Linked DNA regions of Homo sapiens: regions 1, 2, 4, 5 and 6 are each linked to region 3. Evidence: fine-mapped expression QTL. A gene starts in region 3. Each other region holds a variant in brackets. All regions are shown on one strand. Distances are from middle to middle. Region 1 holds the start of LOC124903872 (a long non-coding RNA gene). Region 2 has its middle 35 kb from the start of EIF4G3. Region 3 holds the start of ECE1 (endothelin converting enzyme 1). Region 4 has its middle 41 kb from the start of ECE1-AS1. Region 5 has its middle 32 kb from the start of ECE1-AS1. Region 6 has its middle 46 kb from the start of ECE1-AS1.

Region 1 (4,000 bases), 29 kb after region 3:
TCAAGAGATTGAGACCATCCTGGCCAACATGGTGAAACCCAGTCTCTACTAAAAATACAAAAATTAGCCAGGCGTGGTGGTACACGCCTGTAGTCCCAGCTACTCGGGAGGCTGAGGCAGGAGAATCACTTGAACCCAGGAGGTGGAGGTTGCAGTGAGCCGAGATTGCGCCCCTGCGCTCCAGCCTAGTGACAGAGCGAGACTCTGTCTCAAAAAAAAAAAAAATAAATATAAAAAAAGGAAACCTTAGGTGGGCATCCGGCCTCATCACCCTCTCATCTTCCAGATGTCCTTCCTCTCCAGAAAGGGACACTGGGCTCTGTTCTTGCAGCCACCACCTGTTGCTAGGGGCCTACTAGGTCCCTATCCAGGGCTGGTTCTGGGGCTGCAGGGACCACTAAGACATGGAATGGCGGAGGGGCAGCCCAGGCACAGCCCCTGCTTCTACTCCACATTGAGTTCATCCTTCAGCCCGAAGCTCAAACGAAGCTTCCCCGGGGCCTTGCTTGGCTTCCCTGGTCTCCTCCCGCCCTCCCCTTCAAGGCCTCTGGGATGTTCTCACAGCGTTCACCCCGTGCGTAATCAGATGCTCCCGCGAGTCCTTGGCTGCCGTTTGCCTCACTCACCACGCTGCATGCCTCACGTGGACAGGCCTCCAGTTATGTTGCCCACTGTCCCCCACACCCGGCCTGGCGGTTGCCAGGCAAAAGGAACTTTGTAAACAATGTGGGAAAGCAAGTGAGCGTGGCACCCAGGTGGTGGGGGCCAAAGGAATGGAGTTTGAACCTGGCCTGTGGCAGCCTCTCAGCGAAGGAGCAAGGGAGGCTGTGTCTGAAGGAGGCATTCCTTCTCCCTCCCGGTGATAATTTGGGGCTTGCAGACAGGTGTTAGGGAAGAGGGCCTCGGAACTCGCTGTGATTAGCACAGCCAGGCTGCTCCTGGGAGCTGTTCTTTAGGCCTCTTATCTTTGTGGCCTTGGGGGAGGGAGATGCCAGGCTCACTCATGGGCCAGAGCACACAGAGTGCCTTCCCCAGCGCTGGCCCTGGCATTTCAGGGCTTTGGCCGGAGCCAGATGTGGAGGGTGAGACGCTGCATCTGAGGCCTGGGGAGCAATGACGATTCTCCTGCTTTTTCTTCCAAGAGCTTCATTGGGAGTGTTGCCATAGGAACGAGGCCCCTGGGAGGGGCGAGGCACTCCCCTTTTGCTCTCCCTGATCTTCTGTATCCCAGCTTCCCCATTTCCGCCCTCCCCTCACAGAGTCCTCTTCTCAGAGCTGCCGTGGTGCCTGGGGGACATGCAGGTGTTTCCAGCACTTAGCAACCCAGTAGCCCATGGTCTCCAGGGCTGTACGAACCCTCCATAGCCCCTCGTTCAGGCCCCTGACCCTGTCTCTCAAGGGGCTCTCTTGTCTCTGTGTCTTCCTTCAGACTAGCCCCAAGCTGGTCCCGTCCCCCTTTCAGGGCCATCACCCTGAGGTCAGCAAGACCGGGGCTCGATGCTCTGATCAGTGAAAGCCATGGTGCTATTTATGGTGAGGATCGGGGGGCAGGGAGCTCTCGGGGTGAGGCTGGGAAAGCTGATGAAAGACTGGCCAGGAAGTGACTCATGTCCTTTGCTCCAAGTGACTACGCCAGACAGCTTTCTTTTCTCCAAGCAGTCCGCCTGCCCTTTCAGGCATCCCCGCTTGTCCCCACACTGTCCTGTCCTGCTCCGCGCAACCCAGTGGCCTCTCCCCTCCCTTCCACCTGGTGAACAACTTCAGCTTTCAGAACCAGCTCAAATGGAACGCCCTCTGGAGACCCCTCTTCTCCCCACCCCTCCGAAGG[G/T]AGTGACTTTTCTCTGTGTTCCATAGCCACGTGCGTTGTTCATAGCACTGTCGTGTCTTGTGGTCATTTCTTTGAGTTTCTGCTGGGTGCCAGGCACAGGGCTGGGCTCTGAATTTTATAGGCATAAATAAGACCCGCTTTCTGTCCCAAGGAGCTCACGGTCTAATGGTGGACACAGGTATGCAGAGCGGTGAGGGCCTTTGGGAATGAACATCTTAGGAGAGCCTTCATCAAAAAGATGTCCCCGTAGAGGCCTTGAGGTTGAGTAGGATTTTAACAGGGTCCCATGCAGAAGCTCCTTGGGGACAGGGATGTTTTCTCTTGTGTCCCACAGCTTACACAGGGCCTAGCATAGAGTAAGCATCTAGTATCTGGTCAGAGGGTGGATGGATACAGTTCTGCCAGGAAAGTCTTTGTGAAGGAGCTGGGGTTTGAGGGATCTTTGAAGGAGGCAAAGGAAGGGGCTTCAGGGCCAGAGAGAAATGAACATGAAATGAGGGAATGTGTCTGGAGCAGTGAGTTTCCCAGAGGAGGCAAGAGGGACAGATGGAATTGAGGGGTTTAGAGTATCTGGCATGGCCTGGAGCAGGGCTCTGAGAAGAAGGCTCATGCACAGAGCCCCAGTATATAGTGGGTCCCTTGTGGACCTGAGTGGCAGGAAGCGGTCATCTTCACCAGGTGCACCCACCGGAGCATTGCCTTTAGCAGGTGGCATCTGGACCAGGGCACTGAGGTGAGGGAGAAGGGAACAGAATCTCCGGGTGTCTGGGGTAAGGTCTGAGAAGCCACTGCAGGAGGGAGATGCTGCTTGCTGGAGTTGGCAAGGGCGGTGGAAAACGGCCCCAGGAGTTGGCTGTAAGCCTGGTGAACGTGCCTAGCCCCTCCAAGGAGGAAGCAAAAAGTAAATTCATAATGAATGAGCCTTTTGAGTTTCCATCCAACTTCAGTCTTTATCACAAGAAAGATCATCTGGTATCTGAAAACCAAGACCGGCCTCTGTCCCATGCACCAGGCAGGGGTGTTCGTACCACACGTTATCCACAGGGGAAGAACACTGTCCTGCTGGTGGGCACGTGCGGTCAACCCGGGGACACGTCTGTGAACCCAACTGGCAGAGGGAGAGAAACGTGGTCGATTCTTTTTCTTTGCAGTCAGCAAAATTTCGGGAGCGCCTTCAGCTTGCCAGGCTCTGTCCAGGGGCCCTCACATACTCACGGTGACGGCATTCCTCACTGCCACTCCGACAGGCAGATGTCAGAGCTCCTTTGCAGCTGAGAACACCAAGGCTCCGAAAAGAGGGACTGCCCCAAAGCCACCCAGTGGGCAAGTGGGGCCGCATTGCAAACTCCACTGTCTGTTGTTCCAGAAAACTCCACGGCCAGCGTGAGCGAGGCAGAGAGAAAGGCGCAAGTATACTACCGTGCGTGCATGAACGAGACCAGGATCGAGGAGCTCAGGGCCAAACCTCTAATGGAGTTGATTGAGAGGGTGAGTGCCTCGGGCTCTCCCTCCCCAAGCCCCGGCCCATGCCACCTGCCCGCCCCCTGGCTTCCACTCCAGCCTTCTGGTACCACTGGCCCACCTCATACGTCCAGCCGGTAGCACCAAGAGAAAGACAGAAAGAGAGAGAGCGAGTGTGCGAGAGCACATGTGAGTGTGAGCACATTGCGTAGCTGCGTGGGTGGGTTGTCTGTGCATGTGTTTGTGTGAGAGTGTGTGTCAGCATCTGTTGTAGATGTCTGTCATCTGTCTGTGTGTCTCTCTGTGCATCTGTGTGTGGGATGGGGGCCATGTTTAGAGGGAAAATATTCCTCCACGTTGCTGCTGTTTTTTCCTCAGGGGTTATGTTTGTGTGTGTGGAGGGGTGTGTGCCTGTTCCAGAAAGACCCACAGAGAGTCTTGGCCCAGAACCAGAGCCCTCCCCGTGAGCAGGGACCCAGGCCACTCTCCTATACCTGCTTACTCCTGAGCAGGGGAAGACATCTTTCTTGCTTTCTTGGGCACTTCCCAGACTCTGAGGCTTCCTGGTGCAGACAGTAGGTGTCTGTGGATGTTTTCTGCCTGCCTCGTGTTCCCTGGACAGCCCTGCCTCTTAGCTTGGCTCCAGGAAAGCATTGCAGCAGGGTTGGTGGCTGCATGCGCTGGGGACTATGCTAGTCCCCTCCTCTCTGG
Region 2 (4,000 bases), 78 kb after region 3:
AAACTGAACACTTAGAATGGATTAGACAGCAAGAAATACTTCTGTGTCTGTGTGGGAATTGGTATAGGATAAAGGGGGCACTTGTGCAGTGGCACACACCTGTAATCCCAGCACTTTGGGAGGCCGAGGCAGGAGGACCACTTGAGCTCAGGAGTTCGAGACCAGCCTGGGCAACACAGCAAGACACCTGTCTTTACTAAAAATACAAAAATTAGCCTGGTGTGGTGGCACATGCCTGTAGTCCCAACCACTCAGGAGGCTGAGGTGGGAGGTTTGCTTGACCCAGGATGCAGAAGTTGCAGTGAGCTGAGATCACGCCACTGCACTCCAGCCTGGGTGACAGAGTGAAACCCTGTCAAAAAAAAAAGGGAGGCTGTGACTCCATCTCTTTAAAAGAAAATAGGGAAGCTGGGTGCAATGGCTCATACCTGTAATTCCAGCACTTTGGGAGCCTGAAGATTGCTTGAGCCCACGAGTTTGAGGCCAGCCTGAGCTTCATAGCAAGACCCTGTCTCTACAAAAAAATACAAAAATTAGCAGAGTGTGGTGGCACGTGCCTGTAGTCCCAGCTACTCTGGAGGCTGAGATGAGAGGATCACTTGAGCCCAGGAGGTCAAGGATGTAGTGAACTGTGATTGCACCACTGCACTCCAGCCTGGGTGACAGTGAGAGTCTGTCTCCATCAATCAATCAATCAATCAATCAATCTAGTAGGAAAGACAACTAGACTCAGGCTAAAGAAAAAAGTTTTAAAAATCATGGAAGAATTTTAATTTTCCTCATTGATATCCTTAAACCACACTTCATTTCCAAATACACACAATAACAAAGTCATACTTAAACCTAACATGATACAGCTATCCTGGATGCAACCAAAAACACACCAACCCTTCCCCAGGAGAAGATGCAAAATCCTTGGATAATGCTCATTCTTCTCTTTTGATATCCTGTAACCTAAATACCATAATATAAAGTTTACTATTATTTTATTTATTTATTTATTTTGAGACAGGGTCTCACTCTATCACCCAGGCTGGAGTGCAGTGGTGCAATCTCGGCTCACTGTAGCCTCCACTTCCTGGGCTCAGGTGATCCTCCTGCCTCAGCCTCCCCAGTAGCTGGGACTACAGGTACACGCCACCACCCCCAGCTAATTTTTTGTATTTTTTGTAGAGACAGGGTTTTGCCATGTTGCCCAGACTGGTCTCAAACTCCTTGGCCTCAAGCAATTGCCTGCCTTGCCCTCCCAAAAAGCTGGGATTACAGGCGTGAGCCACCACACCCAGCCTAAATTATTAATATATCTCATGTTAGATGATAAGGGAATAAGAGGGAAGAAAACAAAAATATTTGGCTAATCTATATACAAACATTCATAACAAAATAAGGAAGAAATACTCATAGTTATTACTGTCCTCATTTCTGCAACTGGTCATGTGGTCAGAGCTGGTCTTTATAATTCCTCTTCCTCCACTGCCCTTTCCATATTCCTTTTCCCTTAGCAAGCACCTCATCTGGTCATGGTTCTTTGCCTGGTGGGGTGACCCAAACCTTCATTCCTGAAATTCCTGGACCGTTAATAGTCCTGCCTGAACTGGGCTGTTGTCGCTTTTGTTTACTTTAGTCACAGGACGTGGTACTGATGCT[C/T]TCCACTTGCAATGAGGTTATGTCCTGATAAATCCATCTTCTTTTTTTTTTTTTTTTTTTTTTTTGAGATGGGGTCTCACTCTGTCACCCAGGTTGGAGGGCAGTGTGCAATCTTGGTCACTGCAGCCTCAACTTCCCAAGCTCCGGTGATCCTCCCACCTCAGCCTCCACGCACTATCACACCTGCCTAATTTTTTTGTATTTTTAGTAGAGACAAGGTTTCACCATGTGGCCCAGGCTGGTCTCGAATTCCTGGGCTCAAGCGATCTGCCTGCCTTGGCCTGAGTGCTGAGATTACAGGTGTGAGCCACTGCACCTGGCCCTGATAAATCCATCTTAAGTTGCAAATATCCTAAATTGAAAATGCACTTAATGCATCTAACCTACTGAACATCATAGCTTTGCCCTGAAATGTGCTCAGAACACTTCCGTTAGCCTACGGTTGGGCAAAATCATCTAACACGAAGCCTATTTTGTTGACTAGATATGTTGACTATCTCACGTAATTTATTAAATACAGCACACTGTAGATTACAGTATCAGCTGTCTACCCTCGTGATCGTGTGGCTGACTTGGAGCCGCGGTCGCTGCCACTGCCCAGCATCATGAGAAAGCATTGTACTCCATATTGCTAGCCCAGGAAGAGATCAAAATTGAAAATTCAAAGGATAGTTTCTACTGAATGTGTATCACTTTTGCCCATCATAAAGTCAAAAAATCATAAGTCAAATCATCGTAAGACAAAGACTGTCTATATTAACAGATGCCCTAAGGGAGCTCATGTATTCCAGATATACTCTCCCTTACCTCTGTTGTGTAGCAGCAATACAATTTTCCCTTAGTAATCAAGACCAGTCATCCCAGCCAGTACAGTGACCTCCTTCTTTGCCTGTTAATTTTGGGTATGGGGAGCGCAACGCGACTGAGTGGCAGCCTCAACCTCCAGTTCAGTGTAATCATTGTGTTGCCTAGTGGAAGCATTTCTCCCTTTGGAACCAACCTCTAAACTAGCAGAGCCTAAGGTCATGGGGACGGGAAGCAGAAATGCTGCTAGTGCATCAGTAGGGATAAAAGTGATTGGGGGCCAGGCGCGGTGGCTCACGCCTGTAATCCCAGCACTTTGGGAGGCTGAGGCAGGCAGATCACAAGGTCAGGAGATCAAGACCATCCTGGCCAACATGGTGAAACCCCATCTCTACTAAAAATACAAAAATTAGCTGGGCATGGTGGCACGTGCCTGTAATCACAACTACTCGGGAGGCTGAGGCAGGAGAATCGCTTGAACAAAAGAGCCGGAGGTTTCAGTGAGTCGAGATTGCTCCACTGCACTCCAGCCTAGTGACAGAGCGAGAGACTGCCTTAAAAAAAAAAAAAAAAGGTGATTGGAGTCACTCCTAATCTCCTAATTTCTACCCTTTGACTCCTGGCCCCATGAAACTTGGATGGTCTCGATCTCCTGACCTCGTGATCCGCCCACCTCGGCCTCCAAAAGTGCTGGGATTACAGGCGTGAGCCACTGCACCTGGCCCCACTTGATTATTAAAATCCTCTTCTGCTAACTGGGTGTGGTGGCTCACGCCTACAATCCAGCCTGGCCAACATGGCAAAACCCCATCTCTACTAAAAATACACAAATTGGCTGGGCATAGTGGCGCATGCCTGTAACTGCAGCTACTCAGGAGGCTGAGGCAGGAGAATCGCTTAAACCAGGAGGTGGAGGTTGCATTGAGCCAAGATCACGCCATTGCATTCCAGCCTGGGCGACAGAGTGAGACTTGGTCAAAAAAAAAAAAAAAAAGGAGAGTAGTTATCCACAGAGGATGGTGGGGCCGTGCTTCAAAATCCTAAGGGTCTGCACTGTGATTCACCTAGAGGGGTCTACCGAAGACTGAAGACAACTCTATCTGCTAATGACACTCCAAGTGCCATTGGATCTGCTGTATCCTATGGCCCAAGTGGCAGTGCAGCTTGCACGGCAGCCTGGACCTGTTTCAGAGCCTTCTCTTGTTCTGAGTCCCACTCAAAACTAGCAGTTTTTTCCCATTCCAGAGAGTGTAGCTATAAATAAATAAATAAATAAATAATCTAAAACTAGCAGCTTTTCAGATCACTCAGTAAATGGGTCAGAGCAAAATACCCAAATGTGAAATACATGGTCTCCAAAATCCAAAGGGACCTACCAGGCCTTGTGCCTCTTTCTTGGTTGTAGGAGGGTCCAGCTGCAACAATGTATTCTTCATCTTAGAAGGGTTATCTCCTTGAGGTCTGCAGTTCAAGACCAGCCTGGCCAACATGGTAAAACCCAGTATCTACTAAAAATTCAAAAATTAGTCAGGCATGGTGGCACATGCCT
Region 3 (4,000 bases):
TTTTTTTTTATTTTATTTATTTACTCAGACAAGATCTTGTTGTGTCGTCCACGCTGGAGTGCAGTGGTGCAATCACAGCTCACTGTAGCCGCCACCTCCTGGCTTCAAGCGATTCTCCCACCTAAGCCTCCCAAGTAGCTGGGACTACAGGCGCATACCACCACGTCCTGCTAATTAAAAATATATAATATATAAATATATATATATATATTTTCTTTTTGTAGAGATGGGGTCCGTGTTGCCCAGGCTGGCCTAGAATTAGACTCAAGTGATCTCCTGCCTCAGCCTCCCAAAGTGCTGGGATTACAGGTGTGAACCACTGAACCCAGCCAGATTTCTGTGGTTTGTTTGTTTGAGATGGAGTCTCACTCTGTCACCCAGGCTAGAGTACAGTGGCACAATCTCAGCTCACTGCAACCTCGACCTCCTGGGTTCAAGCGATTCTTCTGCCTCAGCCTCCTGAGTAGCTAGGATTACAGATGCATGCCACCAGGCCCAGCTGATTTTTTGTATTTTTAGTAGAGATGGGGTTTCATCATGTTGGCCAGGCTGGTCTTGAACTCCTGACCTCAAGTGATCTACCCAACTTGGCCTCCCAAAGTGTTGGGATTACAGGCGCGAGCGAGCCATGGTGCCTGGCCTCAGCCAGATTTCATTTTAAAGGCTCATCCTGGCTGCTGAGGGGGCTGTCAGAGGGCAGGAGTGGAAGCCAGGAGACCATCTGGAGCCATTGCCCTCACTGTCCCTGTGACGTCAGGCCCCTCACCCCTCTAAACCTGTTTATTCACACATATGTGTGACTGTGAGAATCAAATTTGGAATGAGCAGAAATGCACTTTGCAAAGCTGAAAAGTACGCATAAATGCAGGGATTCCCGCCTTGCTAGAAGCGGAGAGTCCTTTGGAAATCTGCTGGGTTAGACCTCTCTGGGGTTCTTGGTTGGGACAGTGCTGGGCCTGAGTCCCTAACTGAACACCTCATATCCGAGAGAGCCCCCTTTCCCTGCCTAGGGTTATAGGAGAGGGCTCAGGGGCTGGGGAGGGGGGCACCTGGCTGAGGCTCCGAGTCTTGAGGGGGAAGATGGGAAAGAAGGGTCCCCTTCCTGGCTTCTGACTCCCCCTGGAGCAATGGTTCTCTTGTGTTGCAGGGAGGGCGACACCTTTGAGCACGGGGGTGACCACCGGACCACCCTGCAGCCATCCAAATGCACACACACAGCTCCTTTCATCCCGTGTCAGGGAGTTCTCTGAAATTTTCTGAAACTCATTCACGAACTCTGGCTTAAAGGCCTCTGAGCTAGAAAGGGGAACTGAAAGGGGACACCTACCTTTTTACCCCACCTTTTTTGTCTGGTCTTTCTAGCATTAACCCCCTAGACACACCTAAGGGCTGATGCCGGGGGGAACCTGTCTTGATTGCTCTGGGCCACATCGAGGGCACCTTCCTGATACTTTTGTTATCTGCCACTGGGGACCCGGTTGTTGAAGGGGGACTTAAGATTTTCTCGAAGGAGGGGTCACTGTGAGGGCCTTTCCTGCCTGCTAGGGGCTTCAGTTTGGGGGCCCCCACTCCCGACCTCCGGGGAAGGGAGGGGTCCCCATCTCCCCCGGGCCTCTCGGGTCTTGGGGTCTCCCCGGGAGGCCGGAGGTTGGGAACCGGGCGCCGGCGAACCGATCAGGCCCCGCCCGCGAAGGTGGTGCAACGCCTGGCCCGGCCCATCCCATCCCGGCCACCCGGGCAGCGGGACCAGGCGTCTGGGGCACAGCATGCGGGGCGTGTGGCCGCCCCCGGTGTCCGCCCTGCTGTCGGCGCTGGGGGTGAGGCGGGCGCGGCCTGGAGGGCGGGGGCGGGAGGCGGGCGGGACCCCTCCCCGCGCGGGCCGCTCCGTGGGCCGGTCTCGGTCTCGGGTGTCCAGGCCGGGGCGGGGCGCGGCGGCGGCGGCGCCAGGGTCGGGGCCGCTTCCCCATTCGGGCGCGAGAGCCATGGAGGCGCTGAGGGAGTCCGTGCTGCATTTGGCCTTGCAGATGTCGACGTACAAGCGGGCCACGCTGGACGAGGAGGACCTGGTGGACTCGCTCTCCGAGGGCGACGCATACCCCAACGGCCTGCAGGTAGGCGCCCTCCGCTCCCTCCCGAGGTCCAGGCGCCCCGGGCCCGGGCATGCGCGCTGCCGCTGCCGCGCCCCCCGCCCCTACCTACCCCGCCTCTTCCCCTCCCTTCCCCTCCCTCGTCCCGGCATCCGGGAGGGGCCGCGCCTCCCCGCAGCTGGAGCTCCGCGCTGAGAAGCCTTCCGGAGCCCACCAGTCTCCCCTCACCTGCCCCCGCCATCCCTAGAGCCTCCCGGCCACCTGCTTCTGGGGCCACAGCCCAGGTGGCAGAGTTGAAAGCACCCCCGAGACCCGAACTGGTCCAGTTCCCTTTCCACAGAAGGCACAGTTTGTGCATGTCCCGGGACTTGCCCAGGCCCTTTACCGGCAGAGTCTACGGCTGTTTCTGTTTTAGCGTGGAAAGCCCTGCATCCCTGGAACCCACTCCCCCAGTCCGGGGCAAACTGGGAAAGTTGGTCACCTTATCCGGGAGGCAGTACCACCCTCTTCCTCTTGCCCTCCCAATACCTGAGTTTCCTGGGGCCAGAAACCTGTTCTCTGCCCCCTCTCCCTGCCCCTTTTCCAGCCTACTAAGGAAGTCCAATTCCTCCCCTCCCCAGGGTCTCCGCCCGTGGGCATCCCATCTGCCCACTCCTGGGGAGGGCCCCACCCCCGTCCCTGCCTTGTAACAGGACATTGAGCAAGGCTGCTTTCTGCCCTCCCGTCCCTGGGGGGCTGCACTGGGACAGTTGTGGCCAAGACCTCAGTGCTGGAGGGGTTTGGAGCCAGCCAGGTGCGTGGGAAGGTGCTGGAAACGCTGCGGACACCCTAGGAGACCCAGTGATCTGGCTCTTGAGAAGCCAGTGTAGAAAGAGGAGCTGGGGCACCCCAATTCTCGGAGGACTTCTGCCAGGTAGACCAAGGGAAGTATTTGGGAGAATCTTGGGGCCACTTGGTGAACTGGCACACAACTCTTCCCAAAGGCGAGCTTAGGATGAATGGACGCTTAGTTGCCAGGCCCACTCCACTCAGATACGCCTCTTAGAAGCGGGAATAATCCTCCCAGCGCAGGGAGACACCATTGATGGAGTTCCTCCTCCAGGGTCACATAGGCCCAGGGGACCCAAACTCACAGTCCCAAGGGCTCTACCCACTGGGATGTGTGGTACCCCTGCTTAACCTTCAGGAACACCCCTGAGACCTGTAGGGATTACTGTCCCCACTTACAGATGTGGAAACTGAGGCTCTGAGAGGGGCAACCACTGGCCTTCGGTCACCGAGCTAAAAATCCGAGAGCGACACGTCAAACCCTGTCTGTCTCAAACCTCTTCCCAGTGGACTCTTCTTAAGAGGCTGAAGCCAGCAGGAAATTAGATTTCTGGGGCAGGTGCTTTTCCCTTCTCAAATCAAAACAGAATCTAATCAGCAATGTTTTTCAGTCTCATCTTCCACAGAAGGGTCTAAATATATCAACACAAAAGCATTTCAGAATTCACAGCAAAGTAATAATGCCATGTTGCTGTTATCCTCACAGCAGCCTGTTTGGGGTATAACCTTTTTCAGATGAAATAGCACATTTCTCTGGGGAGGGCCCCCGGCCAAGCAGGAGGAGCCCCGTCTCTGAAGCCAGCGACCCGGGTTTGAGTTCTTACTCCACTCACGACCTTGGGCTAGTGGCTTAATCTCTTTCAGTGGTGATGGCCTCACTGTGAAATGGATGTTAGAGAAAGTGGATGTCATACATATTATATGCAGCCTGCTAGGATTATTGTTTTATGACCCATGAAGTAAGGGCTGGCGTGGCCACATTATTGATGATAAAGGTGAGGGACAAAGAGAGGTTAGAGACATTCCTGGGGTCACGTCGCTGTTGTCTATGGTTGGAGTTAGTGTCCTGTCCCCAAATGGATACA
Region 4 (4,144 bases), 44 kb before region 3:
CACTTTCCCCTTCCGTCAAGCACTGGGTGGGTCGAAGCTTCCCAGCTCCCTGTGTCTGTGGTCTCCCTCATTTGGGAGCCTTTGCTCCTGGTGTTTGGTGCCTCTTCACCCCCAGGGTCTCACCCACCCCAGGCAGGAGCTCAGCTGGCCTGTAGCTTGCAGAAGGACCATTTGGGAAAGCTGGTGGGCCCTTCATTCTTGGTACCCGCCCTAAGAGCCTCACTGCGACTCTGTCCACCCTGGGTGAGAGCCCTCCAGAGTAGGCCCCCAGCCGTGAGAGCCCCCCACCCACTGAGGCTTGGCATCAGGTCGCCCTCGGTCTGAACCCTGCTATTCCCTGGCTCTGGGACTTTGGGCGGCTCAATCCACCTCTCAGGGCTGCAGCGTCCTCATCTTCAGGGTTGTGAGCACCCAAGGAGGCCCTGCCTCATTGTGGGGACAGAAGAGAATGGAGCAGTCACATGCCTGCCCCTAAGGAGCTGCACTCTAGGGGAGGAAGCTGGAGACCAAACAGGCAAAGCCACCCACCAGAAGGATCGCTCCGAGAGAAGAAAGGAGACAAAACAGGGCGATGTGGTGGAGAGTGGCTGTGAGGGGAGGGGGCCGCTCTAGAGGAGCGGCCAGGAAAGGAGGTGATGTCTGAGCTGGGACATGAAGGTTGAGGAGGGGGCAGCCGGGCAAAGACGGGGGCGGGGGAGATGAGAGTTCCCGGCTGCCGGAACAGCAAGTTTGGCACATGTAGGGGGTGAACGCTGGTGTGGCCGGGCAGAGGCAGTGGAGGGTGGAGGGAAGGCTAGGGAGAGGTGGGCCTGGAGGGGCAAGCCATGGACAGCCTTGTCTGTGGGGCAGGGGTCAGCATTTCGTTCTAATAGTGGTGGGAAGCCACTGGAGGACCCCACGTTGAGGGGCGACTGGGCTTGGTTTCTGTTTGGAAAGACCTTGGCTGCTGTGTAGAGCATGGACTGTAGGGGGCAGGAGGGAGGCAGGAGCGCGGGCCTCAGGATATTCGTCTGTCCTGAGGCTGAGGAGGCGTAGGTTTCTGCAGGATCTGGGATTTTGGCTGCTACTTCAGGGATGGGAGAGAGGTAGCCAGGCATCCCAGATGCTTCGAGACCTTGCTGGCAGCAGAGCACAGTGGGCAAAAGTTACCTGTGGAGCCAGACAGACCTGTCTGAACCTCCACTTCAACTCAGCCTTCCGGGGTGGGCTTGGGATTCTCCCAGAGTGACCAGTTCCCACCGTCCCAGCCCCTGGGGACCCAGAGAAACAGAGCCAGAGGGCATTGAGCTGGAGCCTGCCTCCCTCGCTTCCGCACACCCTGCCGAGAAGTGAGGGCATAGGAAGTGATGGCCGCAAGGGGATGCCCAGCCCCTCTGCTCCAGGGCTGCTGTTCACACGGCCACGCTGGAGGGAATCCTGTGGCTTTGTGGTTCCTTGTTTCCTGGGCTGGTCTGGTGGAAGATGGCCATGAGAAAGCGGCACTTCATCTTCCTTCGCCCCTGAGTGTTCAGTGGGTGGTTACTCGGCATCCTGTTGGGCTTCCGGTGTGGTGGCTGGGAGCCAGAGAGAGGAGGGCATGAGAGCTCACAGAGTC[A/T]CAGGAGGTGGGACTTGGAGGTCATCTAGGCCAACTTCCTCATAGGGCAGACCAAGGCTCACAAAGGGAAAGAGACTTACCTGAGGCTATACAGCAGGTTAGAGGCAGGACTTAGACCCTGATTCTAGACTCCTCATCCAGCACTCTTTCTAGATAAGATGGAGGTATGGAGGTTTTGGAGCCAGACAGATGTGGGTTGTAGTCCCAGCTCTGTCACTTAGTCCCAGCTGGGTGACCTTTGGTGAGTGACCATCTCTGAGCCTCGGTTTTCTCCTCTATGAAATGGGATGATGGTAGCACCTTTCTCATAGTGGTGTTGTGAAAAGTGGTTGATAATTTATGACAGGTTGTAAAGCTCACAGGACGGTGCACGGAGTTGGCCCTTGGGAGGTGGGAGCTGTTATTACCTTTGTGGCTCCGTCATTTTTTTTTTTTTGAGACGGAGTCTCGCTCTGTTGCCCAGATTGGAGTGCAGTGGCACGATCTCAGCTCACTACAACCTCCACCTCCTGGGTTTAAGCAATTCTCCTGCCTCAGCCTCCCAAGTAGTTGGGATTACAGGCAGGTGCCACCATGCCTGGCTAACTTTTGTATTTTTTAGTAGAGACGGGGTTTCACCATGTTGGCCAGGCTGGTCTCGAACTCCTGACCTCAAGTAATTTGCCTGCCTCGGCCTCCCAAAGAAGTTGGGATTATGGGCGTGAGCCACTGCGCCCAGCCCGTGGCTCTGTCATCCTAACCTCCTGAAGCACCGGAAAGAATGGCTGCGTGCTGGCCCTCACATATGCTGTTTTCTGATGAACGCGGTTAGGGAGGGAAGATGAGAATGGGCCATGGTTGGCCCATCTCTCTGCTACTTATTTTATTTCCCCACTATATTTGAGAGACTCCTTAGCCAGGCCACACTACTACCCACCCACCCCCCCGCCCCCCCCACGGCTCTGGTGGGCTGGAGCTGTGCTGTCTGCCTTCAGCCCAAATAGGGGTGGGGGAGGCGGAGGCACTAAGTGCAGGTCCCGGGTGAAAAACTGGGCAGCTCCCCCCACCTTCTGCATCAGATCCCTACCACGCACCACCAATACCTGTTTGTTCAGTGTGACCTAGTGGTTAAGACCAAGGGCCATGGGATCAACTTGAGCTTGAACCCTGGATCTGCCATTGAATTGTCACCAAGGACTTTTAGCAGGCGTGTCTTCCTCTCTGAGCCTTGGATTTCCCATCTGTGAAGTGAGGATAAGTCCCTCCCAGGAAGACTGCAAATATTCAGTGAGAGGAGCAGCACTCAGAGCATGCATGGTGCATATCTGGTGCTAGACTCCAAGAATTGGATGGCACTAATATTGTAACAGTGTTGACACATGTCCCAATTGTTTCTCTTTCCATAGCTGTTCTTAGAAACTTACTTCACCATCCGCCCACCCCACCCCCATCCTGTGTTCCCGCAGCCCCCTTCCCTCTAACTCCTCGCCTGACTGACTTCTCTCAGGGTCACCTTGGACTGAAATCTTTCTCCCCCTCCCCTCCCCTCCCCTCCCCTCCCCTCCCCTCCCCTCCCCTCCCTCACCTCCTCTCCCCTCTCCTCCCCTCTCCTCCTGTCTCCTCCGCTCTCCTCCTGTTTCCTCCCCTCCCCTTCCCTCCCCTCTCTCTCCTATCTCTCTCCCCCCCTCCTCCCCCCTCCCCCTGGACTAACACAGATCAAGAGTTCAAGCTCTGGCCCAGCCTGCCTGGGTTTGAATCCCAGCTCTGCCATTTACTGGAGCAGCCTCAGGCAAAGTACTTAATTCTTAGCCTCTATTTCTGCATAAGTAAAATGGGAATAAGGATAGTGCCAAGCTTAGAGAGTTGTTTAAATAAGCGACGAGATTCTTGTAAAGTGCCAGGATCAGTGCCTGCAGTACACTAAGTGCCTAATAAATGTCACCTGATTTATTACTAGGCAGGGTTCTGATGGAGCAGAGCCCCTGCCTTTTCACCTCTGCGTTCCCAGTGTCTGGCAGGGATGGGACTGGAAGGGATGCAGGCTCTCTAGGGGTTTGTACTATGGCATTGGAGAGTTGCCTTCCCAGTGAAGCAGGCCTCTCCAGAAAGGGGAAGGGACTCGGGCCACATCTTAAGCATGTCTGTCTGGCAGATATTTCCCACAACCCTGCTGCACACCACTGGGTGCTGAGGATGGGGTGGGGGAGGGTGCAGTAAGGCTGCCCTTAGTGAGCTCAAGTCCACGGAGGAAAGTGGGACAAAACGGCCCTGATACTATCAGAGAATGACCAGCCCAGGGCTGGCAGGTTGCTTCTGAGGAGGCTCCTGGGAGTGGTGATGTTTGATGTTTCCTTGTGGGAGTGACATAGTAGTAACTTCTGTCTGCATTAGGGCTTTATTCAGTAATCCTCCATTCTTTCCTGCCCGCGGTGTTTTACTAGTCTTAGCAGTAATAATAATAGCGTTTCTTGAGTGTTTGCTGTGTGCCAGGTACAGCACTAAATATTTTATGTTATAAATTTACTTAATCTTCACATCAACCCTGTGAGGTACTTATTATTGTTATTCCTG
Region 5 (4,000 bases), 35 kb before region 3:
AGGGCCTGGTGATTGATTGGAGTGGGGCAGGGGATCAGCCCGTCGCTTTGACAAATGAGAAAACAGAGCCCAGAAAGGTTGCATGAGCCACCGGAGTCACACAGTCCAAGCGTTAGAGCCAGACGCTAAGCTGGAGCCTCCCATCCCAGGGCCTTCCAGCCAAACATGGACTCCAGGCCCCAGATTCCTGGCAGCTGCTCTGGCAGAGTCCCTCTTCCCAGTCTCCTGGTGGCTTCGTCCCTCCCCATGCCCTGCTGCCTGCAGAGTCTGGCAGCTTCAAGGGAGTGGGGTGCTTTGAAGCATCTACAGGGAGGGCAGTGCTGTGACCTCCAAATTCTTTCCATGTGACCTATGCGACCCCAGCGAGACCAGGGCCCTCAGGACCCTGCCCTCCCCAGGCTTTGACGGAGTCCACAGAGGTGGGGTTTAGGGGCCAGAGCCACTGTGCAAACACAGCCCCTTGCTGGGGAGCGGGGGTGTTTCCAGGGACCCGAGCTGATGCCCTGTCATGAAGAGAAAGGAGACGCAGGGGCCAAAGGCTGGGGAGACCCTCTCTGTGCTCAGTGGGGTCTCCCCAGCAGCGGGGAGCTGCTTCCCCATCCAGGCTCCGTAACTGCAGGCTGCTGGCTGCTGTCTTAGGATTTCTGTTTTCTTCCCTGATGTCACCCCAGTTGGCACCTAAGACCTCTGAGATGCTGCTCAGTTAAATGGATTCTTAGCTCTGCAGGCCTCGCCCCACCTCCCTACGCTGCTCCAAACCATCCCCCTCCTGAAACCAGAAATATAACCCCCCTATTATGAACCTCATCTCCTCGAACCTGAGCCCCTATTTTCCTTAAGATTTGGATCTCTCTTTGGGGTTCAGGCCCCCCTTTTTTCTCACTAGGTTCTAGGACCTGCTTCCTGCTTAGGCACCTTCTTCTCCCTGGACCCCTTCTTCACCCTTAGACCCTGGACCTGGGTCTGATCCCTCTCTGGGGACTGGAGGCTCTGCTGTCTTAGAGACCAGCACCCCCGACACACACACCCCACGGTCTCCCAGGTTTCTCTAACCCCCAGGGGCTTCACCCTTCTCAGCTTGACACACAGTAGGCACTCAAGAGACAAGCTTGATCCTGCCACCCCTTCTCCCAGCCCTCCCCATTTGTGGCCCCTCCTGTACCTCCCCACCCTCCCCCGCATGGGTATTTTTGCTCAGGGAGCTCGTGCTGTGTGGCAGCTGAGTCTGGGAAGCAGCTATTGTTGGCTGAGAACGTGGGGCGGCAGAAGGATGGGGGCTGAGAGGAGGCAGGAAACATGCTCATAGGTCCAGGCCCAGCCCCCTGGTCCCCACACCCCACTGGGTCCAGGTGAGGCCATTTTAGGACAAGTCAAAGAAAGCCCCCTTCCCACAGCCGGGAGCTCCGTTGTGGAAATCACTGCGCTAGGGGAAGCTGGCAGCAAGTTTGGAAACAAGGTGGCTGGCGAAAGTGCCACCGGCAGCTTCGGAGAGCAGCCGGGGCACCCCTTGAGCCTCTGGGTGGCGTCGGGACAGTAGGCAGGACTCCCTGTGTGTTGATGCTCTGCTGCCGCCCCTTCTCGTTGCTTCTCGTACCTGTTTCATGTCTGCTCCGTGGAGCAGGAGGTGGGAACCACAATTTATTGAGCATTAACTTTGAGCTAAGCTGTGTGCTGAGCAATGAATGCATTGACTCAATTCATACCTCAGTCAGCTCCAAGGAAGTGGGTCCTATTGTGTCCCCATTTAATAGGTGAGGAGGCTGAGGCTTGGTGAGGTGAGGTGACTCGGCCAAGGCCACACAACTCCTGACTCTGTTTTTGCAGGCTTCTGTAGAGCATCTGACTTCAAGGCTGAGTGTGTTTTGCTTGTGGCTGAAAAAGACCAGGGACAGCGAGGAGGGAGGAGGCCAGCAAAAGAGGATGAGAAGCCTGCATGGGGAGCAGGGAGTGCCCTTTCTGGTGTGGGGACAGGCAGCTGGAAGCAAATTTCAATCTGGATGAGGAACTGGCACTGTTCTGTCCTCTGGCCCCTCTTGCCCCTTAATTGTGACGTTACTTCTCACCGCTGAAGGGGAACCGCTCGAGACGCTGGCTTGTCCTGGCACCTGCCTTGAGCAGAAGCTCAGAGAAAGATGCATGGAGGGAAAGAGTGGGGAGCAGAAACAAGCCATCAGGTACCAGGTTGGTGGTCCTGGAGCCAGTTTATGGTTCATCTAGTCACAAGGGCCCCGTCTCTGTGTTTAGTGTCAGCTAATGAAGAAATTGAATCCAGTACACAAAATTGGATTTTGCAGTTTTGCAACCAGTCTCAAC[C/A]CCCCTCTATTGTGTAACGTGTTTCTTTAGAGAAGGAAACCCACAACAAAACATGTGTGCTTTCCTCCTGGCGACCTCTGATACCTCCATTGAAGACATGGCTTAACGAGAACTGTTTTTCTCCTTCTTTCGTGATTTGTGACTTTTCTTGCAGGCTCCAGGTGGCAGTGAGTCAGCCATAAAGCTCGTTCAGGAAAGTCCAGAGGAATTTTTCTTCTGCATCAGGTTCAACTTGAGCAGTGCTGGGTGACGCCCAGTGACACACTCGGTTGGGGAAGGAGAGGCTGGCACACTCCACTAGCTGCTTATCTCTGCCACCTCCGCCTCCATTTGTCCCTGGCTTCCTGGGGCCCAGAGCCATCTCTGCCAGAGCAGGGAGGCCGATTAAGTGACCCGCGGGCTCCTTCTGCCTGACTCAGCTCAGCTCCAGCCCTCTCTGGGGAGAATGAGTCATTTTTTCAACCCTGAAATGTTTCTCTTCATGTGGGAAAGGGGCGGGGGTGGGGAGAGCCCCTCCTGGTCCTCTCCAAACTTGTTCCTCAGCTCTGAGGGACACTTCAGCCACAGACAAAGGGATTCTAGGGCAGCTCTGGAGAGGGCAGTCAGACCTGAAGTCAGTAAACCACAGCTGTGGCAGCCGTTGGAGTCTCCCTGGACAGAAGCACACTGGGCTGAGTGGGTGGAGTGTCCCTGTCAGTCCCGCACTGATGGATGGTTTCTCCCTTGGGGATGGGCCTCTGCCCCCTGCTTCCTCTGCCCACCCAGTTAAGAAGCTATATGAGCCCGGGTGTGGTGGTGCACATCTGTAGTCCCAGCTACTTGGGAGGCTGAGGCAAGAGGATCGCTTGAGCCCAGGAGGTCAAGGCTGCATGAGCTATGGTCGAGGCTGCATGGGCTATGGTCAAGGCCGCACTCCAGCTTGGGCAACAGAGTGAGACCTTGTCTCTTTAAAAACAAAACAGGCCGGGTGAAGTGGCTCATGCCTGTAATCCCAGCACTTTGGGAGGCTGAGGCAGGTGGATCACTTGAGGTCAGGAGTTTGAGGTCAGCCAGACCAACATGGCAAAAACCCATCTCTACTAAAAATACAAAAAAATTAGCCGGGCATGGTGGTGCATACCTGTAATCCCAGCTACTCAAGGAGGCTGAGGCAGGAAAATAGCTTGAAACCCGGGTGGTGGAGGTTGCAGTGAGCCGAGATTGCACCATTGCACTCCAGCCTGGGCAATGGAGTGAAACTATGTCTCAAAAAAAAAAAAAAAAGAAAGAAAATTGCCCCCATCTCCCATTTTCTGTCTCCCTTCACTACCTCATTGCTCCCCTTAGCCCCTCCCACAGTCTAACATGCTGCATATTTGATTTGTCTTATTTATTCTGTCTCCTACTAGCATATAAGTTTCATGAAGGCAAGGCTTATTTTATTTTATTTTATTTTATTTTATTTTATTTTTAGTTTTTTGGGACGGGGTGCCACTCCGTTACCCAAGCTGGAGTGCAGTGGCACAATCACAGCTCTTTGCAGTCTCGAACTCCCAGGCTCAGGTGATCCTCCCATCTCAGCCTTCCAAAGTGCTGGGGTTACAGGCATGAACACTGCACTTGGCCCAAAGGCAAGGATTTTGTCTGTTTTGTTTCCTGCTATATCTGTCGAGAACAGTGCTAACACGTAGTAGGCACACGATTTTAA
Region 6 (4,000 bases), 49 kb before region 3:
GGGGGCCGTGGTCAGTGTGAGTGAGACTGATAGGTCTCTCTCTCCCACAGTCTGATGGACAGGCAGGCAGACAGATACAGAGCAGGAAATTACAAGCGCAATTACTGTTGTCAGGGAGACACGCGGGGGGCTGTGGGATTGGACCGGGAACCTGACCTGAGGATCAGAAAAGGCTCCCTGAGCACATGGCATTAAAATCATAACCTAAAGAGCGAGTGGGACTGGGAAGAGTGTTGGGGGGCGGGGGGTGGAGGGAGCAGAATGTGCAAGAGTACAGACCGCTGTGCCTTCAGGGATGGTTCATCTGGAGGCACGGAGGACTGTGCTTAGGAGGTGGCCCGGAGGGTGCACTCAGGGATGGTCATATGAAGGACCTGGGGCTCAATCCTTAGGGCAGTGGGGAGCCACTCAGGAGTTTATTTTTTAAATTTAATTAATTTACTTATTTATTGAGACATAGTCTTGCTCTGTCACCCAGGCTGAGTGCAGTGGTGCAATCTCAGCTCACTGCAGCCTCAGCCTCCCTGGTTCAAGTGATTCTCCTCAGTCTCCCGAGTAGCTGGGATTACAGGCGTGCCACCATGCGACTAACTTCTGTATTTTTTTAGTAGACACCGGGTTTCGCCATGTTGCCCAGGCTGGTCTTGGACTGCTGACCTCAAGTGATCCACCCGCCTCAGCCTCCCACAGTGCTGGGATTACAGGTGTGAGCCACCGCACCCAGCCTACTGAGGAGTTTAGAGTCAGGGGAGTGACACGGTCGGATTTGCATTCTGAGATGGTCACAGGCTGCTTTGTGGTGATTGAGTAGAAGGAGTGAGGCCGAAGGCTGGGAAACCAGTGAGGAGGCACCTGAAGTGGCCCTGGGAGAAAGGTGGTGCTGCAGGCACCATCCAGTCCTCCTCTAGCCCAAACCACGCCCCTGGCATGCTGCCCAGAGCAGTCAGTGAAGACAGAAGGAGGCTGTGGCCCCAGACAGAGGTCCCAGACAGCCCCTTCTCCTGAATGTATTGACCCTTCCCCTCATCCTTTCAGGCAGATAACCAGCCGAGGGCCCTGGTCTCCAGAGCCTTTAATAGAGGAGAAAGAACAAGTTCCCAGATCGCTCTGAAATAAGGTAGAAAATGCTATGTGCCAACCTGGGGATGCAGCTCCAGAGTCATCCTGCCCATAGGTGTGTATCAGGGAAGCCTTCCCAGAAGAGGTGTTAACACTTGGTGGAATGCTTCCTAGACGCCAAGTTTTGGACACATAAAAAATTAGGAGGGGGGTTCACTTGTCCTTGAAGAGTTAATAGTCTGAGGGGCACAGTTTAATGAACAACCAGTGCTGGCGGAACCCCACTGTCAGGGTGGCACTGGAGTCCAGGACCTGGGGCCTGCCCTTTCCTTGGGCCCCTGAGGGCAGAGTGGCTGGGATGCCCCAGGCCTGTCTTGGTGGGCTGACAAGCCTAGGAATGGCTCCCTCCTCCCAACAGGGCCCCTTTGGACTTCCTGGGGGGAGGTGTAAACAGGGGAGCAAGTTTCTAGAGAGCATTCAGGAAATCGGCTAGGTGGGGATCTAACATCAGGGAGGTGGGCCTGGCTTCTGGGCCTTCTAAAGACGCTAGAGCGCTTGTATGAAAAGGGGATTAGGAACCACCAACTTCGAGGCCCCTGTTTGACAAGTGGGAAGACTGAGAGACAAAATGAGCATCTACTATGTGCCTGGCACTTAAATGTAATCTCTGCTCTTCACACCAACCCCAGGGAGGAGGGTGAGCCTTATTTCAGAGTTGTAAAAGCTGAGGCTCAAAGGTCACTTAGGGAATTAGGGACGGGAGCTAGACAGTGGCTCCCCGATTCCTCTAGATTATTATGGCTTCAGTCCCAAGCTGCCACTCAGTTTGGCAGAAACTTGGCCTTCCTGGGAAAGCCCACTGGGACAGGGATAGGACTGTTGAGCCGGTAGCCAGAGGCGTTGAGAGCTCACTGGGGCTGGACACTGGCCAGGCTCAAATGCTGGTTATTTATTGTTCACCTTTGCACCGCACTTGACAGTTAGACCTTTTCTTCCCCATTCACCGACTGTTCTTGGATTCCCACTGCCAATCAGTAGCAGAACTAGAACTTGAACTCAGGCCTTGTGACTCCCAGCCCAGTCCCCCGCCCTGAGATCCCCAGCTCCCCAGCTCAGATAACAGCCCCTCCCTGTCTGGCACCACCTGGTCCCCTGGCCTGGGTCTCCACTAACCCCCACCCCTAACACCTGATGTCCCAGCCTTTCTGACCACATAGCCCTCTAAGCAGGAGGAGCAGCCCCTGGCCCAGAAGCCTCCTCTCCCCATCCTCCTCCCACA[G/AG]CTCCCTTCCCTCCTTGGCTGGGAAGGCAGGAGGGTGGGCCTGGGGCAGCAGCCAGGCAGAGTTAGGTTACAGCGTAAACACAGTCATGTCAATATTTACCTCTGCCTGGAAGCAGAGCCTCCCACCTCCCTGCCTGACTCCCTCCAGCTGCCCATCCAGCTGCACATGGCCCGCTCCCAGGCTCTGATCTGGTCATTGAAAGCAAGGCCAGGGTGGCTTCCAGCCCAGGCTCTGCCACTAATCCTTGTCCTCCTGAACCACGGTCTTCCTTCGTGGGCCTCAGTCTTCCCATCTGTGAAATGACATGGCTGGAGCAGACTGACTCCAGGGCCGTCTTCAGTAATGACATGCAGGATGACAAGTATAATACTCTCATTCAGAGGATAGACTCGAAGTTGTGCAAATCTGGGTTTGAATTCCAGCCCCACCACTTCCTCACTGTGAGACTTGGGGCAAGGCACCTAACCCCTTTGAGCTCCACTTTCTTCCTCTGTAAAATGAGAGCCTAGCAGTACCCATTTTGTTTGCTGGTGAGGATTCATGAGCTATGTTTGTAGCACTTGGCACAGGATAAGGTTTGATTAAATGGTCATGGTGGTGGTTGTGATTCCAGATAAACATTTTGCGATTCTCTGAATCCAGACACTTGGTTGCGTCACTTGGAAACTGGAGCCAAGGGTGGGGACTCTAACCTCATGTCCTCCTGGTCCTCTGAGAGGCCACAGGCTGGGCTGGGGTGTCCAGGGGTTGAGAAAGCTCCTTGGTCAATACCACACACACCCCCAGCTGCCTGGCCATTGGAGTCCCTTCTTATTGGGCGGAGGTCCAGGGCTGAAATGTCCTCAGAGCTATGTGGCCATGAGAGGGATGAGGGAGGGCAGAGGGGGCAGAAGGGGAAGGAAGGACTCATTTCCTCAGCAGCTCTTTCACAGAAGCTTCGAGTCCATTACACACATGAGCTGTTCCTTCCAGCACTGGAGAGGAGGGGGCGAGGGGCGAGGACTGGCTGCCTCCAGGTGCCACATCTGAGCAGGCAGTGTGGGGAGGAGAGGGCAGGGAGGCGGGATCTGCCCGTGCAGCAGGAGTGGGCCTTGGAGACTGATGGGCCCAGGTTCAAACCTGGCATCCTCACTTTTTGCATTGTCACCTTGGACAGCGTGTCACCTCTCTAAGCTTTATTCTCCTGTCTCTAATATGGAGCTCCTGGGGCAGTATTTTGCCCAGTAGTTAGAAACGCTCAATCAGATCCTGTTTCAGAGTAGCCCAGCTGAGGGCTGGCACATACAGAGGACTCAGTCGGTGTCACCTGCTGTTATTGTCATGACTGTTACGATGATGACACAGGATGCCAGACTGGACCTCATGAGGGCAGAGATTGTACGTTTCTAAAAATTGTGGTATAGTATAATTTACTTAAGTAATGTATGCATATCTTGTACAGCTCACGTTTTACAAATGCACACACCTGCATACTACCTGGACCAAAGTGTGAACCATTCCCACAGTTCCCGTGTGCCTCCTCCATCAGTCCCCTGCAGCAGGTGGCCACTGGCCCTCTAGTTTGGCCTGGTTTTGAGCTTTCTCTGTGTGGATTCATTCATGTGTGCTCTTTTGTGCCTGGTTTTCTTCAGCTTTGGACAGCAAGGAATGTTTGAGGTTTG

The links.
Region 1: its variant is fine-mapped to the expression of ECE1 in whole blood (INTERVAL, PIP above 0.99).
Region 2: its variant is fine-mapped to the expression of ECE1 in whole blood (TOPMed, PIP 0.98).
Region 4: its variant is fine-mapped to the expression of ECE1 in whole blood (TOPMed, PIP above 0.99). The same link has a PIP of 0.9 or more in blood mononuclear cells.
Region 5: its variant is fine-mapped to the expression of ECE1 in whole blood (TOPMed, PIP above 0.99). The same link has a PIP of 0.9 or more in blood mononuclear cells.
Region 6: its variant is fine-mapped to the expression of ECE1 in T cells (TOPMed, PIP above 0.99).

The regions. Positions count from the first base shown.
Region 1 is chr1:21,259,587-21,263,586 of GRCh38, reverse strand. ECE1 (endothelin converting enzyme 1) reads left to right here. Exons shown (of 19, transcript NM_001397.3): 5 at 3,195-3,316. It overlaps LOC124903872 (a long non-coding RNA gene), which reads right to left and starts at 1,504. Exons shown (of 3, transcript XR_007065530.1): 1 at 563-1,504. RefSeq lists a silencer at 1,117-1,411 and an enhancer at 948-2,147. The variant G/T (reference allele first, on the strand shown) is at 1,829.
Region 2 is chr1:21,209,863-21,213,862 of GRCh38, reverse strand. No RefSeq gene overlaps it. Among named protein-coding and RNA genes, the nearest start is that of EIF4G3, 35 kb to the right of the region's middle. The variant C/T (reference allele first, on the strand shown) is at 1,648.
Region 3 is chr1:21,288,181-21,292,180 of GRCh38, reverse strand. ECE1 (endothelin converting enzyme 1) reads left to right here and starts at 1,718. Exons shown (of 19, transcript NM_001397.3): 1 at 1,718-1,817; 2 at 2,025-2,111. The coding sequence starts at 1,767. RefSeq lists silencers at 1,637-1,816, 1,867-2,036 and an enhancer at 2,713-3,274.
Region 4 is chr1:21,331,720-21,335,863 of GRCh38, reverse strand. It overlaps a transcript of ECE1 not described here. Among named protein-coding and RNA genes, the nearest start is that of ECE1-AS1, 41 kb to the right of the region's middle. RefSeq lists an enhancer at 1,269-1,488. The variant A/T (reference allele first, on the strand shown) is at 1,595.
Region 5 is chr1:21,323,396-21,327,395 of GRCh38, reverse strand. It overlaps a transcript of ECE1 not described here. Among named protein-coding and RNA genes, the nearest start is that of ECE1-AS1, 32 kb to the right of the region's middle. RefSeq lists an enhancer at 3,119-3,679. The variant C/A (reference allele first, on the strand shown) is at 2,314.
Region 6 is chr1:21,337,283-21,341,282 of GRCh38, reverse strand. It overlaps a transcript of ECE1 not described here. Among named protein-coding and RNA genes, the nearest start is that of ECE1-AS1, 46 kb to the right of the region's middle. RefSeq lists an enhancer at 1,840-2,782. The variant G/AG (reference allele first, on the strand shown) is at 2,339.